Homo sapiens: one gene and its partner. The main gene of each other region encodes a partner of the protein of the gene in region 2 in a complex. Each region holds a gene or a part of one and is shown on either strand. Other genes may lie near its edges. A codon is read from its position in the direction of its gene.

Region 1 (7,841 bases), on a different chromosome or scaffold from region 2:
GGCAAGGAGTGAAACGGGACGCTGGGCCAACTGCAGGGCTCGGTGAATCAGGGGTATCTAGAGACAAAGGTAGTGAAGAGAGAAGCACCCAGAGTTGGAACACATACTAGCCCAACCAGTGCATCCGGTTCAGCCATTAGCCTCCACCCTCCCACCCCCAGGACAAAACAGCAGGGGACAAAATGTCTGTACAAGCAGACCTACCCTACAGTTTCTCAACCCCCAGACATCAGGGCCCTCAGGGCCTGAAAAAGCTAGAATGCCTACCTTGAGCTTGGTATCTTCCTCTGGGAGGCTGAAGTTGTGCAACTGGAAATCATCAGGGGTGTCTGCATAGGTGTAGGTGCGGATGGAGAAGTCACAGCTGGCCATGGGTACCCGGATGATGTTATATCCGATTCCTACAGAAAAGGATGATCAAGATATGGTAGTCCGAGTCAATAGGAGAGTATGGGACTCTGCTTATCACTTGCCAGTCCTAATAGTGTCTGAGTCAGGGCCAAAGGGAACTTGGGCTCCTGGGTTGGAACCTGTGGAGGCTGGCACCTGGGTGAAGCGCAGGCCTTTCTGAGCCTGAGTCCGTAGCAGTTAGCAGATGATAGGCGGTGAAATCTTATTTCACAGGGCATTAAAACAGGAACCAAATGTCAGGGATGGGCAGAAGTCAGGGTCCAAAGAAAGGGCAAAGAAAAGTGTCAGTGGCTCACGCATGTAATCCCAGCACTTTGGGAGGCCGATGTGGGCAGATCACGAGGTCAGGAGTTCGCAATCATCCTGGCCAACATAGTGAAACCCTGTCTCTACTAAAAATACAAAAAATTAGCCGGGCGTGGTGGCAGGCACCTGTAATCCCAGGTACTCGAGAGGCTGAGACAGGAGAATCACCTGAACCCGGGAGGTGGAGGTTGCAGTGAGCTGAGATTGTGCCACTGCACTCCAGCCTGGGTGACAGTGCGAGACTCTGTCTCAAAAAAAAAAAAAGAAAAAAGAAAAGTGTCTGCTGGGCTCGGTGGCTCACACTTGTAATTCCAGCACTTCGGGAGGCCAAGGCAGGTATATCATTTGAGGTCAGGAGTTTAAGACTAGCCTGGTCAACATGATGAAACCCTGTCTCTACTAAAAATACAAAAATTAGCCAGGTGGTAGTGGCGCACGCCTATAATTCCAGCTACTCAGGAGGCTGAGGCAGGAGAATCACTATAGCCTGGGAGGCAGAGGTTGCTGTGAGGGGAGATCACACCACTGCACTCCTGTCTCGCCGACAGAATGGGCAGAGTGAGATTCTGCCTCAAAAAAATTTTAAAAAAAGAAAAGAAAAACGAAAAGTTTCAATGGCTCTATGTCATCTTGTCCCCTTCCTCCTCACCTTCTTCAGAGAAGTACGATTTAAGTAGCAAATTTTGGGCAGGGGGTGACAGGGCAAGGATGTTGAGAGCAGCAGCATCTGTCATGGCCCCTCCAAATCCCTTCACTTTCTGGAACTTCTGTTCTGGCTGCAGGGTCAGTAGCAGGCCTGAGGACATCCACAGGGAATAAGGGTATCAGTACCCAGCGGGAAACTCCATGGTGATCACTGACACCATTTACCTCTAGGAGGACCCAGCCTGGCCCAGGGGGTGAGGGGTGTAATGGTTACCTGTGCCCGTGTGATTAGCCTGGATGGGCCCCATACTCAGCTCCATCCGTCGCCCACTGCGTGTACTCTCATAGCGGCTGAAGGTACCAAGGGCAGGAAAGGTCGGGGGGTCAAAGGAGTCACAGTATGTGGCATTGCAGACACACACCACCGAGCTGTAGCCGAAGCTTTTAGGGATGCAGGGGCGGGCACCTGGGAGGGAGGGAGTACAAGCAGAGTGAGGTCTGATGAAGACATGGAGAATGGACACATCTGCTAGGAGAGACTGAACACGGTTTCAAAATTCCTCACCCCTTGGCCGGGCGCAGGGGCTCACACCTGTAATCCTAGCACTTTAGGAGGCCGAGGTGGGCGGATCACCTGAGGTGAGGAGTTTGAGACCTGCCTTGCCAGCATGGTGAAACCCCGTCTCTACTAAAAATACAAAAATTAGCTGGGCGTAGTGGTGGCCGCCTGTAATCCCAGCTACCTGGGAAGCTGAAGCAAGAGAATCGCTTGAATCTGGGAGGCAGAGGTTGGAATGAGCCAAAATTGCACCACTGCACTCCAGCCCAGGCAACAGAGTAAGACTCTGTTTCAAAAGAAAAAAAACAAAATCCTCACCCCAAAGTTGGTCTCAGTCACTCAAAAGGATTTATTGAGCACCTACTAAAAGTCTACCACCAGCTTACTGGAAGGCTACCAAAGGACTATGAGGCAGAAGGGAGGCTCTGTGCTACCTCCCCACTGCCTTGACTCACTCACCTGATGCCCACGACACTGCCTGAAGTAGAAGCAATCCTGTGAGGCTGCCAGCCATGATGCTTACCCTACTCAAAGGCTTGGGACATTCCTGAGGACAGAATGAGGAATGACTGAAAAGCAAGCCCCTCTCCACCCCTCAACTACTCTCCTGGGCAGGGCTTAGCTGCCTTTGGGTGCCCATGGCCCGGTCTCCCACATTCATTAGGACAAGGCCCACAGAAACCTGGGTGCAGCTCTCCCTGCAACCCTTCTGATGACAACTCTCTGCCCACCCCAAATCAGGATGCTCCCCACCACTCTTCCCACCCATTTCAACTTCGACCCCTCCCTCCATCTGTGCCTTGCTCAAAGAGCCATGATGGCCCTGGATTCAAAGAGAGTCTGTCATTCATTAAATTCCAGTGCCAGGATTCCAGAAGCACTGTGACAATGCTGATTGGGAGCTCTCTCTCTTACCTCTCTGGAAGGACTTGAAAACTCCATCCCCTCAGGGTCATTAGATGAAGAGAAGACCACAGGGGTTCCAGAGTCTCTGAAGGATAGAGGATCCACTAAACAAAAACAAGGATGCAGGTACCTGCCTTAGCTATAGGCACTAGGTTAGCCCTGCAAGTAATTCCGGCTTCCCGATGTGGATGGGTCATGTGATGACTAGGAGCGTCACATGACACAGGAAGTGAGGCAATCACAGCCATATTTCTAAAGGGCAATTGGCTTCCTCTCATCTGTTACAGATTATATGCCCTATAAAACTCTGGAGGGCATGTATGGGTGACAACTTTAGGAAGAGCCTAGAACACAGATTTGCATGGAGAATGGGGTAGAGGCTCCTAAATCCCAGAGGATGGGAACCACAGCAGGCACACTTCTTTTTTGATAGAAATGTCAAAAAGGTACAAATAAAGCTGATATAATTTAAAAAAAAAAACTTCACTGTGCAAAATACTGACACTACCAAGATGTTTAAGACAGTCTTTGCCCTATAGAGGTGTGTGAGGCATGGAAGTCAGACACACAGATATTTACAGATAAAGACAGAAACGGTAACAGGTGTGCATGGAGAGCTCTCTGAGATGAGGAGGGACCATTCGTGGGTGGGGAATTATCCAGGATGGCTTCACAGAGGAAAAAGTGAGGGGGGTTATTAGCCAGTGAAGTGCAGGGCACAAGAGGGTGGGACACTGGCAGTGGGATGACAGGACTGGAGGGAGGGAGTGGTCAGTGCGGCTCCTCTGCAGCGTCCCTTGTTTCATCATCAGATGCAGATGGTAATAACTGTTCTTCCTTCCTCACAAGACAGGGAGGTTTGTAAAGTCGTTCAAAAACCAAAGTGTTGTACAAAGCCATATCCTCAGTGGACACAAGGAGGAAGCTGTCCATGGTGTGGCCTCATGAACCACATCAAATGAGATTTAGCGGGAGTGGCACACACAGTCATGACCTGACTAATCCCAGCTCTCAGCCCATTTCCTTGCCTGGAAAATGGAGGCAATGCCACAACCTCAAAGGGTGGTTACTGCAGTCAGTGAGGTAAGTGCAGTGCCTGACCACTTGGTAGGCACCTGGGAACTACTTGTCTCTTGTTTGTATTTTTTGTTGTTGTTGTTTTTTGAGACAGAGTCTCACTCTGTTGCCCAGGCTGGAGTGCAGTGGCGTGATCTTGGCTCACTGCAACCTCCACCTCCTGGGTTCGAGTGATTCTCCTGCCTCAGCCTCCCAAGTAGCTGGGATTACAGGTGCCCTCCAACATGCTCAGCTAATTTTTTTATTTTTAGTAGAGATGGGGTTTCACTATGTTGGCCAGGCTGGTCTGAAACTCTGGACCTCAGGTGATCTGCTGCCTTGGTATCCGAAAGTGCTGGGATTACAGGCATGAGCCACTGCGCTGGACCCCAGCCATCCTTTTTGTTCTTTAAATGATCTCAGTGAAGTCTTTCTAGATACACTCCAAGCAAAATTGATCATTTCTTCTTCTAGGTTCCTCCAGTAATTTTTTTTTTTTTGGTTTTGAGACAGAGTCTTGCCCTGTTGCCCAGGCTGGAGTGCAGTGTGATCTCGGCTCAAGCAATTGCCCTGCCTCAGCCTCCTGAGTAGCTGGGATTACAGGAGCCCACCACCATGCCCAGCTAATTTTTGTATTTTTAGTAGAGATGGGGTTTCACCATGTTGGCCAGGCTGGTCTCGAACCCCTGACCTCAGGTGATCCACCAGCCTCAGCCTCCCAAGGTGTTGGGATTATAGCAATGAGCCACCACACCCGGTCCCTCCAGTAATTAAGTACAGTCTCAGTGAGACAGCAAGTTTGGAATCCTGGCTACACCATTTACTGGCTGTTTGACTTTCAATAAATCAATCACTCTAAGCCTCTGTTTCATCTATAAAAGGGGAGTGATAACTCCTACCTCACAGAATTGTTGTGAGGTTTGAGTGTGATAATGTGTCTCTAGTACACTGCTTGACACTAAACATTGCAACATGTCAGGCCTCTGTTCCTGGAGTTCCTTGAAGGAATGTCTTATGCATTCTAAGTATCCTCGTAGATAGCCTGGCACAGGGGTAGCTGTCAAGTTGTAGAATTGAACTAGTTGCTTCACTATGTCAGTAGCCACCCCTTCCAGACTTCTCACTTTTCAAGGAAACATTGCACAGGATTTGTTCTGGGTAGGGCAGGTAATATCTAGTACCTTACTTCCCTCAAGTTCATTCATCTCACAGATATTTCCTGAGCACATTCTACATTTGCCTCTCCTGCTCTATTGAGTTTAGAAGTCCAAACATCTCCTTCCACTTCCCCTCTGCATAGTGAGCCTCTTCTTTTTTGGCCAGGTACTGAGCAATTTTTTGTTTGTTTGTTTGAGACAGGGTCTCCGTATGTTGCCCTGGATGGAGTGTAGTAGCTTGATTTCGGCTCAGTGCAACCTCTGCCTCCAGAATAAGCAATCCTCCCACCTCAGCCTCCAGAATAGCTGGGACTATAGGCGCACACCACCACACCTGGCTAATTTCTGTATTTTTTGTAGAGACGGGGTCTTACTGTGTTGCGCAGGTTGGTCTCAAACTCCTAAACTCAAAGGATCCTCCCGCCTTGGCTTTGCAAAGTGCTGGGATTACAGGGTGAGGCACTGCGCCCAGTCCGCTTGTTTTTTGTTTTGTTTTTTTTTTTGAGACGGAGTATCTCTGTCACCCAGGCTGGAGTGCAGTGGCACGATCTCGGTTCACTGCAACCTCCGCCTCCTAGGTTCAAGCGGAGGGTAGGGACCAGTCCATCCTGGCACCCATCTGCAGCTCCAGTGCGAATCCCAACCCCGACGCTCGTCGCCGGGCTCCGTGAATGTTTGTCACATGTCTGAAGAACGTATGAATTACATAACCTTCTTCCCACTCCACCCCTCAAAAAGCAAGTGGATATAAAGACTTGAAGATTTTATAATCTCTTCTTCATTAGTAAAATCTGACCATCCTTACCGTTAAAAATAATAATGATGGTTGGCCGGGCGCGGTGGCTCACGCCTATAATCACAGCTGTTTGGCAGGCCGAGGCGGGCGGATCACGAGGTCAGGAATTGGAGACCAGCCTGACCAACATGGTGAAACCCCGTCTCTACTAAAAGATACAAAAAATTAGCCGTGCGTGGTGGCGGGTGCCTGTAATCCCACGTACTTGGGAGGCTGAGGTCGGAGAATCGCCTGAACCCGGGAGGCGGAGGTTGCAGTGAGCCAAGAAGGCGCCATTACACTCCAGCCTGGGCGACAGGGCGAGACTCCCTCAAAAAATAATAATAATAACAATAATAATAATAATGGTGAAAAAGGTTAAGTGCGAACGCAGGGAGGGGACAGCTAAGATCCAAAGGTCGAAATATTCATTACGCCTACCGTCGGCGAAGAGAAACAGCAGCCCCAACCGGAGGCAAAACGAAATCCCACCGCAGCCTGCAAAGGCGCCTGGGCGGGACTGGAGACTGGGGCCCCGCGCAGTAAGACTCTGAAGGCAGGATGCAGCCCGACCACCCGCAGCCGCGAGAAAAGCAGCCCTGGGGAGTCGGGGCGGGACCTGGATTGGAAAAGAGACGGTCACTCATGCAGAGGCGGGACTCAGAGCCCTTCCTCAAGTCTCATTGGTCAAGTTGAACGAACAAGTGTCGCTGGCGAGCCGGAGAGAGAGAGAGAGCGAGAGCGAGAGAGCGAGCGAGAGAGAGCGAGAGAGCGAGAGAGCGAGCGAGAGAGAGAGAGAGAGAGAGAGGAGCCGGCGCGAGAACTACGCATGCGTGTCGGCGTTTTCCCGCCAGCACACTGTTGGTGGATGGGGGCGATTGAATTCCCACAGTGAGTCCAGCCCACCGAAGCTCAGAGGATTCCTAACCTTCCTCTTTAGAGAGCCTCAGGTTAGGGAACGTCCAGTGCGCAGAAGCTGCCCCGTGGGAATCCCATTGTCCATCGCCTCCTAATGTTTCGTCCTGGCCGTGCCCTATCCCTTCCTGAGGCTGGGTTGTTATGATGCTGAATTATTCAAGAAGTCTTGCAGCCTGACGCCATCTCTGGGCAGTGCTCCTCCCACCTCCCTGTCTTCCTTGGAGGGCACCACGTTGCCCCTACAAGCACAGGGTCCTGAAGCTGTTTACAGGGCCCCACCCTGCCACTTTAGTATCTTAACGAATGTTTGTTGAGGACCTACTGAGTGTTAGACCCACTGCAATGAGCAAGTTTCTGATCTTGGGACCTTAACATTCTATGGGACGACACAGATATATAAACAAAAATAATAATTTTAGATAGTGATACATGCTGAAACCATGGGTATGTGGCCAGGCGCGGTGAGTCACACCTGTAATCCCAGCACTTTGGGAGACCGAGGCAGGCGGATTACTTGAGGTCAGGAGTTTGAGACCCGCCTGGCCAACATGGTGAAACCCTATCTCTTCTAAAAATACAAAATTTAGCTGGGCGGGCATGGGGACGGGCGCCTGTAATCCCAGCTACTCGGGAGGCTGAGGCAGGAGAATTGCTTGAACCCAGGAGGTGGAAGGTTGCAGTGAGCCCAAATCACACCACTGCACTCCAGCCTGGGTAACAAAGCAAGACCCTGTCTCAAAAAAAGACAAAATGAAACAAACAAACAAAAAAAAACATGGCTATGTGATAGAATGACTGCGATGGGGATTGGGTGCTCACTGAAATGGTGAGAATGGAGCTAAAACCTGATATTAGGTGATAGCACCAGATATAGGGGCCAAGGGTTTCATGCTTGGAAAACAGCAGGTGCAAACGTCCTTGTGCTGTGAGGAAATTTGGCTGGAACAGAAGGTGGGCCAGATTGTAGCTGACCATAGTCTCTGGGAGTTTGGAGATGATTCTAAATACAATGGGAAGCCATTAAATTGAGGCAGAGCCTTGATGTGACGTGCTTTATCATCATTTTGCTGAGTGGAGAATGGATTGCTGGGAAAAGTGAAAGACTGAT
Region 2 (10,447 bases):
AATGCCTTTACATACACATCAATAAAGATGTTTTGCTGATTTGACTTTAAAAAACAAGATCCCATAGTCACCAATCAAAGCAATCTGGTTATCAGTGATTACATTTTACTTCTTTTTTTATTTTTATTTTTATTTTTTTTGAGACAGAGTCTTGCTCTGTCGCCCAGGCTGGAGTTCAAGGGAGCCATCTTGGCTCACTGCAACCTCCGCCTCCCGGATTCAAGCGATTCTCCTGCCTCAGCCTCCCGAGTAGCTGGGACTACAGGCACCTGCCACCATGCCTAGCTAATTTCTGTATTTTTAGTAGAGACAGGGTTTCACCATATTGGCCAGGCTGGTCTCGAACTCCCGACCTTGTGATCCACCCGATTCAGCCTCCCAAAGTGTTAGGATAACAGGCGTGAGCCACCACGCCTGGCCTATATTTTACTTCTTGAGGAATCGGTAGAACAGCTCCAGAGTTTCTATGGCTCCCAAAAGAAACCAGCTGGTACTGACTTGCCCAGAGCCTCAGGTCCAGATGAAGGGGAAGTGTATTTGTCCTGTTCATTGCATCTCTGAGACCTAATGCTACAGTCCTGCCTTGACCTGTGAAGAGGAAGTCAAAGGTGTAAACAGTCTCCCACTGGTTCCCTTGCCATCCCATCCCTTGTTGGCCAGCCCTGACTGTGGCCAGTTCTGCATCCCTATTACTGGGAGACAGTCAACCTGCCAGCACGTCTGCAGAGATTAGGAGCGCAAACTTAATATTCTGAACTGCATAGCTGCTCTTAAAGGTCATGGGATCTCAGAAGTTTGGAGCTAAGAGGAACCATAGCTTGTATAATAAGTTTCAATTCACAGATGACAAATATAGCTAAAGACATAACAACTGTTAACGTTCAGGCATTGTGCGAGGCATTGTGCTGGGTGCTTTATAGATATCATATTATTTCATTCTTGTGACAACTCTGAGTTAAGTATTCTTATCCTTATTGTTCCTATTTTCAAAATGAGGATCCTTAGGATTTGAGGGATTAAATAACTTGCCACTGTGCTTGTTCAGCTTAGTCCAAGAAATCCTTAGGGACAGAAAAAAAATGTTTGATTCAGTTCTGCTGATTCTCAGGACACTCTTCTTTCTATTAAAATGATCACAGGCGAGTGAAGAGGCATTTAATATGTATCTCAGGCACTGTGCTAGGTGTCAAGGCAGTTCACTGGGATACCAGATGAAATGTAACGTAAACTCCTGCCTTTCCAGGCCTAAGGGAGGAAAAGGAACTGCTGGGTCTCTGCAAAGCTCTCTCTTCATGAAGGCCCAAACGCTTGTAAGGAAATGCCTTATTAATGCTCACAATATCCCCTAGGAAGAGGGTGTGGGAAAAAGAGAAGTACTATTATGCCTCTCTTGCAAATGAGAAAATTGAAGCAGAAACAATTACAGGCCTTGCCCAATACGAGGCAGTCACCACTGAGGCCAAAAATGAAACAAAATTGTCTTGGTTCCTTCCACGATATTCACTGGCCAAAATTAAAAGTCTCTCTTCAGTTACCTCTGGTCACTGCAGGGTTCAAGGACAATTATCATTTGAGACAACTTTTTGGATAGGAATTCTCTTACTAAGCTTCCCACACCTACTCATTTGAATTTCATCCCTTTTCCCTCTTCCCTTTTTGACATAGACAAGTCGGGGCATAGACAATCTTCAAATGAAAAAACAAAGAACTGGAAATATCAGAGTAGATTATATTATAACTACATTAGAATCAAGTTATGAATGAATTCTCCCATAGTAATACTAGTGGCAATAAAGATGACTGCCACATATTGATTACCTATTCTGTGCCTGATACTATGCTAAGTGCTTTATACTTGGTCCTACAATAATACACATGCAGAGACAAATCCAGGTTTTGTGGGTCCTGAAGCTTATACAATTTGAAGGGTCCTTCTTAAGAAAAAAGAAAATTTGGGATATAGAATGAGGTACAGGGCTTCGCAAGGGTCTGTGCAAGTGAGAGACCCAAAGCTTAACTTTGCGAGTTTCATGGTAAATGCATCACTGTGCCCAAGTTAGCTAACAGCTCATATCCCCAGTTTTACAAGCAATGAAATTGAGGACCAAGTAAGTTATTTGACGTAAGTCATAAAGCTTATACTGGCAAGGATAGGATTTGAACATATGGAATCTGACTCCAAATCTCACGTATTTTCTTTGTGTGGCTTCTAATAAAAATAAAGTTGCTATCACCTATTAAGCACTAACTATATCCCAGAAAGATCACACCTTAAGGTTATAAGAATTATTTGACAAAGCAGATGTGATCGTTAGTCCTTATTATCCCTATTTACAGATGGGGAAAACATGAATCAAGTAAGATTAAACAGCCCACGGTCACCGAGCTGGGACATAGTGGAAGCTAGGTTTCATGCCCAGGAGTGTAACATCCTCAATCTTTCCCACTGTCCCATGCTACCTACCACCCTACAGGTAATCCAGGAAAAAGCAGAATAGCGATGTGTGACTTACCTCTAATGACAACAGTATTTCCACACCTGCCCACTGAAACTAGCCCTGTCCTTTAGTTTCATACAATACACCGTGCAGTCCTCCTTAGCTGGGATTGAGCAGCTCTGAAAGTCCACTTCCCTGTACTATTACTTATCAGAACAGAGTCCATTCCTCATGGAGAAAAACACTTGGAAATATCAACACAAACTCAGGCCCCAGCCAAGTTGCCTTACAGCCACCCCCTCACCCAGAGAAATGGAGACACACAGAGAATCTAAGGGCTGGCTATATGGGAACCACGGGGAAGATCACTCATCCTATAGGGCTCCTTGAAACAGCCTTTCAAGGCCATATAAGAAAACTCACATATTTACTATAATTGGATTGCTTTACTCTAGTCACCCAAAGCAAGAGTTTACATCCTCAAACACAGCTCACCATGGATTTGGACATGGACAGGAGTGGAGAAAGGATTCAGTTTCTTTTTTCCTTGAACATGATTGCTCAAAGGAAACTGACCCTCGAGACGCTCAGACAGTGGGCCTTGTCTTCCCTTGGCAATGTGAACTTTAAAAATTACATTATGCTTTGCCATGGTGCTTTTTGAAAAACTGCCTTTAACTGCCAGATTTCAGGTACTCACTTAATTACTTTTGGAAACTCAGTTAAAGGAAGATATCCATTGCCACCTGGAATAAAATAGCTTTACTGACTGGAGAGTGCAGTGATTCAAAGTAGACTAGGCCTGGGCTTTTTTATCTGGCCGCAGCAAGTGCAGACCAGTGGGAGAAATGAAGCGTGCAGTTATGGATGCTAACAAGAAAGGCTGCTGCTCCAGTGATTATTTTTCTTTTTTAAGGAAAAAATGATCCCAGTAATTCTCTTTTGTTCCTCTTTTGACACAGCTTGGTGGATGTGGGGGAAAGGGCAGATGAAATGACCAGTGAAATCAAAAGATGAAGTCTTCTTAAAGGACTGGCTCTCCAGCCCAATCATCTAGAGGAAGAGACAAGTTCAGATTCTTGTAGGGTATCTAAATGCATCTGTGCCTGAAAATTATGGCCGTTTGAGAAAAACAAGAATTCATGGTGAGACAAAGCAACACAGACTGTTGGTACAAGATACAAAGCCACTAAGTCAGCGTTCAGCAAAGACTGATGGATGAATTGTCACCCAGCCTAAAGGACTGGCCCAGCTACCAACTGCCCCTGCCCAGCCCAAGAGGGCAAGAACACAATAGACCGCACACCCACGTCTCATCCCCAGGCGCACACCACTTCAAAGGCTACAGCAAGCAGACAACATAACCTGCCTCTTCTGCGGTGTCTTTCATTCAGTTCTGTTTCTTCATGAAGTGGGAAGGAAACAAGTTTGGGCCCACCTGAGATTGGGGTGTAGACGGAAGGAGTGGGGAGAGATGCAAACGACAGAACACAACCGAAGGCCTTTTTAAAAGTCAGGATCCATAGCCTTACTTATCACTGTAAAGGGAACAGAGTCGGCTCCATCCTTCCTCATCCTTCTTTAACCCTCGCCTACCAAGCCCTGGAAGACAGGGACGCAAGAAGAGCTCTAGCGCGGAGGGTCTGCCTGAGTGCTGGTCTTTCCCATACAAGATGTAGCAGCAGGGATGGGAGGGTGAGCTGGACGACTCCACAACACACACACAGCCCGCCCCGCCTCACCTTCTCGATACTCTGGTCTACAGCCTTCTGGAAGACCCGGGCCACCAGCAGCGTGACGCTGGTCACCAGCAGGAGCAGGGACAACGTCCCCGCCGTGTAGAAGCAGCATCGGCCCATTCTGTGCGCCGCTCACGGGCCGGGCCGGGCCGCACCCGCCAGGGATCCAACTGCAAGGAGGGAGGAGCCGCCGCAGAGGCGTCGAAGACCCGGGACCCTTCGGCGCCACGCCCACGCCCTCCCGGCGCACGGTTCGTGCGCGCAGCTCTGGGCTCCGCGGCCTGGCGAGCGCGGCCCCGGGTGCACCGGGCGGATGGGGCCGCGGAGGGACGGGCCCGGACTCGGTTTCGGTTTCCTTCGCCGGGCAGCCGTGGCGCCCGCCTAGCGCAGCTCGGGAGAGTGCAGGGAGCGCGCAGGGACGTGACGTTCGCGGGCCGGGCTCGCCGCAACCCCGCGAGGCAACCGCCGGCGACTGCGCGGGGAGGCGGGCGGGGGCGGAGGCCGCAGTCATGTGCCCTGCGGCGGCGGCAGTGATTCGGCCCGCGCCCTCCCCGGCCGGTCCCCGGTGGCCCTGAGTGGCTGCGGCGCCTGAGCCAGGCCCGGCCTGGCCGCTCCCAGCGCCCTGCACCGCAGGCCCAGCGCTCGCCCCACCGAAATTGCCGAACCTGGTTCACACACTCATTTACTCATTCCGCAGATAGGTCTGAGGGCCTCCCATGGGCCACGCGCTGGGGATTCAAGGTGGCTGGGACATTCCCCTGCTCTAGAGGCGCTCGCAAGTTAGCGGGGACACCGTTACCGCAATTACAACACAATGTAGCAAGTGCTTCTACCAGGTGCCTGCTGAGATCATGCCAGCAAGCATGTTCTGCCTGGATGACCTAGGGCCCCACATTGAACTGGGGCCTGGGGGATGCATAAGTTTGTCACGTAAGGGGCATGTGCAAGAATGGAAGATGTGCAAAAAAGGGAGGAGGAGGCATTTCACGGAGAAGGAAACGGTGAGCAAAGGCATTGGGGGTGAAAGAGCAAAACCTGTAGGAAGCAAGAAGGAAGTTCCTTTTGACTGTAGGCTCAGGTGTTCAGGGGGTGGAGTCGGAGGTGTTGAGGCCCCAAGAGGTCAGACTTTGAAGGGCTCTTGGTATCCTGTTAAAGATGTGGAAGTTGGGAAGGAGCTTAAAGCAGGCATCGCTGGTGTTCTTGCCTGCTTTGCTCACTGTGGTGTCCCAGACACCCAGGACCAAGACCTGCACACAGCCAGGACTCAAGAAGTGTTCGTTAAATGAGTGTTTCTTCTACGCCAGCCCTTTACTAGTTTCTTTGCACAGTTCTACTCATTTAATACCCTTGGCAGTCCTATGAATAGGAGGTTGTGTTTGTCCCAGTCCTCCAGAAACAGTCCCAGATGGGGGTACTATGCAAGAGAGTTTTGAGGGAAAACAGGGAGCTGGACCTGGGATGCAGGTGTGATCCTTGTGAAGGAAAGAGGCAAGCAAGGAAGGAAGGTTGGGTGGAAGGAAGCATTTGATATATATACAGTCCATGTATAAAAAGTTCAGCAAGGCCATTGGGGTGGGGAATCCTTTAGCCAAATGGGCTTGTCCCAGAAGTCTGGCATCTCCCAGAAAGAGGCCCGCCTTAGTATCCCTGCTGTGCTCAGTCATGAGCTGGGAGCAGCCTTAGGAAGCTGGCCTTTGCAGCAACCTAGGGATAAATATCAGGGTATGGATTTCAGCAGAGCTCAGCAGTTGAGGCGGAGCCATTGGTCAGTTATGCTATCTACACTGCAAGATCCAAGAAGTACATTTTCTTGGCAACTATAGTGTATTATCCTCATTTTACACTCAAGAACACTGGGGCTCTGAGTTAAGTAACCTAACAAGCTCAACTGGTTGCTGAGTGGTGGATCCTGCTTGAACCAGGATGTAGGGCTGGCTGTTGGCTTCCAAAACCCTCACTTTTTCTACTCTGCGCATTGCTGCATCCCGATCTGTCACTAATGAGAATCTGAGGACAGCAAATCAGTTAGGAGGCTTTGTTGAGGACTTGGTGAGATAGCATGATGGTTTAAAAATGGTGGCAAATTATTTGTTACTCCTTTCGTTGAGAGGTGGGGTCTATACTTTCTCGCTTTGAATTTGGGCAGGTTTTAGCAATTTGTTAAACCAATAGAATACAGTGGAAATGACCATATCCTGGAACTTCTGAAGCTAGATCATAAATGCCTTGCAACTTCTGCTGGGGCCTTTGCAAATTCTTGCTCTTGGAGCCTCAAGTCACCCCTAAGTTCAGCTACCCGGAGACTGCTGCAGAGAACATGGGAAAGACTGTGGGGAGAAGCCCTGAGTCTGTAGGAAGAGAAATGTCCCACCAGTCCCCAGCTGTCCCTAGCCTTTTGAGTCACAGGCCCTAGACATTACAGAGCAGAGGTGAGTGGTCCCTGCTGAGCCCTGCTCAAAATGCAAAATAAAGGATTGTTGTTGTTTAAGCCACTGAGTGTTGGTGTGGTAGGTTACTCAGTAGATAACTGGAGCAGATGGTAAGGGCAGAACTGAGGCTGGGACATTTTGTAGCTACCAAAGCTCTTCAAGCAGCAGCCCCAGAGGACCAGTCCTGTGTTCAAATAGAACCTGGTGGGGTCCTGAATGATTCAACTGTCCCCAGCCTGATGGGTGGGTGGTCTCCAGTCCTCAGGTGTCCACAATCGGCAGCCTTTCTCTTCCCCTAATCCTGCCTCTTCTCTGCTGTTAAGTTTCAGTTAGCTACATTAACTCTGCTCTGTGCCCCAGTTTGCTTAAGGAGCAATGCTAGCCCACTAACCCTCACATGTCCCCTACCTAGGCATTGGTTGAAGTCCTCCTGTCATCTATATGTCCTCTCCTTCCCTAACTAGAAAAAAAAATTTGGTAACTTGCCTGCCTAGGTACTTTGGCACTCAGAAGTTCATGCTCACACTGAACTTCCACCCCCTACTCTCTGACTGCTACAATCAGATTTTCTGTTTGCGGGCTCCATTCTGGAGGGCAAACTCCATAGGTACCCACTCCTCCCATCCCTGGACCACCAATCCCAGGGTACTCTTCCTTTTCATTGTTCATTGAGGTCCCTTCTTCTCTCTTGTCTGGGCCACCAGGACAGTAACAGACTGTGGGGATGGAGAGATGGAGACAAATTTGATAAATGTATCTTAGTGTGGGAGAGTTTCTAAACAAGGGTTTACAGCTCAAGTTGCCCTCAGTTTACCTGCTCTCTGAGGATCTCACTCTGTTTCCACTATGTCAGGCGGTTAGTAAGCCACTTCCCCTTTAAAACTCTGGACAAGCCGAATGAAAATCTCTTTCTTGGTTCTTCTTAACACAGCTGACCAGGCTAGCATTTTTAAATGTGTTAACATAAGACAGAACAAAAAGGACCTAATTACAGAAAATATAAACAGCTTTTAAGAAAATAATGTATGTTCCCAAAATAGCAGTCTGTGATCCCACAGTAATCTCTGTCTTATCACCGAGGCTGGCATAACTTTTTAGCAGCTGGCCTGGCTGTCTTTCTGTTCAGTTCCATCTTCTCTACCCACAGCTATGTTCAGAAGCTTTTGACACAAAGCCCCAAAATCCAGATTTAAGTTTCTCAATGCCCTTTGGGACTTCCTCCTCATTTCTGATCTATAGGACATGTCTGCACCGCTAATTGGCATTGTTAGTTTATTGCCACAGGATCATCTCACCCTATGAGAGACTTTGCCCTCTCATCCAGGGAGTAGCCCCTGCTTGCCAGCCACTAATAACCCTGAACACACTCTGGAGGGGCAGACAGCTTGGGAAGGGGTTACTGCTCCCAGAGTTTAGATGAGGAGGCTGATGCCAGGGCAGGGAGACAATCAGGACTCTTCCTGGTGACTTCTCTGCTATGGTTTGGATTTGTGTTCCCTCCAAATCTCATGTTGAAATTTGATCCCCAGTGTTGGAGGTGGGGCCTAATGGGAGGTGTTTGGGTCCTGAGGAGAGATTGTTCATGAATAGATTAATGCCTCCCTCAGGCATGAGTGAGTTGTCAGAGAGCGGGTTGTTGAAAAGAGCTGGCACCTCCTCCTTCTCTCTCTAGCTTCCTCTCTGCCCATGTGCCTCACACAGGTGTGCTCCCTTTCTGCCTTCCCAGGAGTGGAAGCAGCCTGAGGCCCTCATCCAATGCAGATGTCTGTGCCGTGCGTCTTGTCCAGCCTGCAGAACCATGAGCCAAATAAACCTCTTTTCACTACCCAATCTCAGGTATTGTTATAGCAACACAAACAGACAAGGGCGGAAAATGAGGAGACTGATGCTGTGGCAAGGAGATACGGTGATCTCTCTATACCTAAAATCAGAAGACTTTATCTGAGAAGAACAAGTACACTTAATGAATGATTGCTGGTGCCTGTTGAAATTATGCAATCATTCGGGACTTAGAAAAAGAGCTTTCTTCACAGACTCTAAGGGCTATCGAGGGGAAGCAAGAGGGCTCTTTGGGCTCTACCTTAAATTTAGAATGTTGATACTATACTCAAATGAGTTTAATGATGTAGTCATTGTATACTTTTATGTTCAAAGTGTTAATGTGTTAAATATAAACATTTAAAATACACCACAGGCCGGGCCAGGTGGCTCATGCCTGTAATCCCAGCATTTTGGGAAGCCAAGGCAGGAGAATCACTTGATCCCAGGAGTTTGAATGGAAATGGCCCTAGGCCTTGCCTACTTTGGGACAGGTCAGGCTCCAAGATACTTCTAAAAGTCTTGGCTTTCTTCTTATTGAAGGTGATCTATAAAATGTACCATCACACCCTAGTGATTTGACATATGTTATTCCTAAATGTTTGTGGGGCATCCTAAATCCTGAGCAATACAGCCTCCATAAGAAAAAATTACTCTCTCCTCCCTCCTCCCCTACCCATCATTCCAAAGTTCTTACATTACAGAACTGCTTTATGCAGATAGGCTTACATATCCCAGAGGAGAGCTCATATACCATTTATATTATATCACATGCACCTGTGCCAGGCCACAGGGACTCTCTGTGAAGTTACCCATGTCCCTGTCTACCGCCTCCTCCGATCAAGAAGACCTCATGGCTTCCTCATTATCATCTTTGCACCCCCAACTAGGGGAATCTTTTCCAGTTTGTTTTGGTTTGGTTTGGTTTTTATTTTGTTTGGGGTTATGGGAAAATGAGAATTCCCCTCTTCAAATTCTTATTTTCCTTTTTGTTCCCCTAATAATGCAGACTTATTGAAACACGGAACTAGGAGGAGATATCCTATTCACCTTTTTCTCTTCCCTTTCCTGAAAACACAAGCGTAGTGTTGTCTAACTAATAGAATGTGTGGTTGGAGGGCGAGGAGTCAGGAGATCAAAGAGGAGAAAAATATAGTGGGCAAAAAGGGTGAATATGTCAGCAATATTATCTGCTACTTGTACATAGTACTTGTACAAGCACTATGCTAGACAGTGGGCTTGCATTACTTCATTTACTCCTTACAATGCCCTATGATGTAGACATTCTATTTTAAGGATAAGGAAACTGAGGCACACAGAGATTGACTAAGTAGTCCAATGTTACTGGCCAGTAGGAAGCAAAGGTATTACTAAATCCAAGTCAGTCAGATGCTTTAGCCAGGCTCTTAACCCCTTAGCCACTGCTTGGGACTTCTGGCCTCATGCTTATTAAGAGTAAAAGGAAAGCAGTGAAAATTGCAAAAAATAAAAATAAAAATAAGCAATGGCACTGGAATACTCATGGTGACCTGGGCATCCAGGAGGGGCACAGGTTGGAATTAGTGTGTGTGGGAGACAATGCCTCTGCCTGAACCTGATGTTGAACTAGAATGGAGAGCCAGGAAGGAGTTGCCAGTCCGGTGGCCAAAAATATACTTTGCAATATATCTAATGTATATTCTGACGTGAAATGTATTCTAGTCTGTTCTCACTTGAGGTACTTTGATGGTACTTTCTAGAAGCAAATGAAGCTTGGGTTGGGTTTAAACTCACTGTGGCAAAGCCAGCATATTGTGAAATATCAAGGCTGTCTGATTTCCTGCATGTTGTGAAATCAGGGCTAAATAAACAACACGAGAGGTCACAGTTATTCTTTAATGATGTGTTCCATGGGGAGAAGCTGTATAAACGAGAAAGCCAGGTTTACTCAGCATCTCTTTCTGAGGGGAGAAAGGGGGGATGGAGAGTGAAGAGGGGACTGTCTGAGGGTAGAGGCAGACTTTGTCAGCCTGGAGTGGTGGGG

The links.
Region 1: the proteins of SCARB2 (region 2) and GBA1 are in contact, whole or in part, in a cryo-EM structure (PDB 9FJF), measured with the Homo sapiens proteins. Residues at the interface, in NP_005497.1 of Homo sapiens: Lys161, Ala162, Tyr163, Gln164, Lys181, Glu183, Leu187, Phe191, Arg192; in NP_000148.2 of Homo sapiens: Leu130 (codon at 1,433), Asn131 (codon at 1,430), Ala134 (codon at 1,421), Ile169 (codon at 351), Glu190 (codon at 288), Lys194 (codon at 276), Leu195 (codon at 273), Pro430, Arg434, Ile445, Thr446, Asp448.

What each region holds. Positions count from the first base shown.
Region 1 is NC_000001.11:155,238,250-155,246,090, forward strand, and holds the start of GBA1 (lysosomal acid glucosylceramidase isoform 1 precursor), read right to left. Parts: upstream 3,001-7,841; 5' UTR 2,864-3,000; coding exon 2,837-2,863; intron 2,469-2,836; coding exon 2,381-2,468; intron 1,829-2,380; coding exon 1,637-1,828; intron 1,514-1,636; coding exon 1,367-1,513; intron 402-1,366; coding exon 268-401; intron 58-267; coding exon 1-57. UniProt on the Homo sapiens protein: Glucosylceramidase that catalyzes, within the lysosomal compartment, the hydrolysis of glucosylceramides/GlcCers (such as beta-D-glucosyl-(1<->1')-N-acylsphing-4-enine) into free ceramides (such as N-acylsphing-4-enine) and glucose.
Region 2 is NC_000004.12:76,209,247-76,219,693, forward strand, and holds the start of SCARB2 (lysosome membrane protein 2), read right to left. Parts: upstream 4,579-10,447; 5' UTR 4,298-4,578; coding exon 4,181-4,297; intron 1-4,180.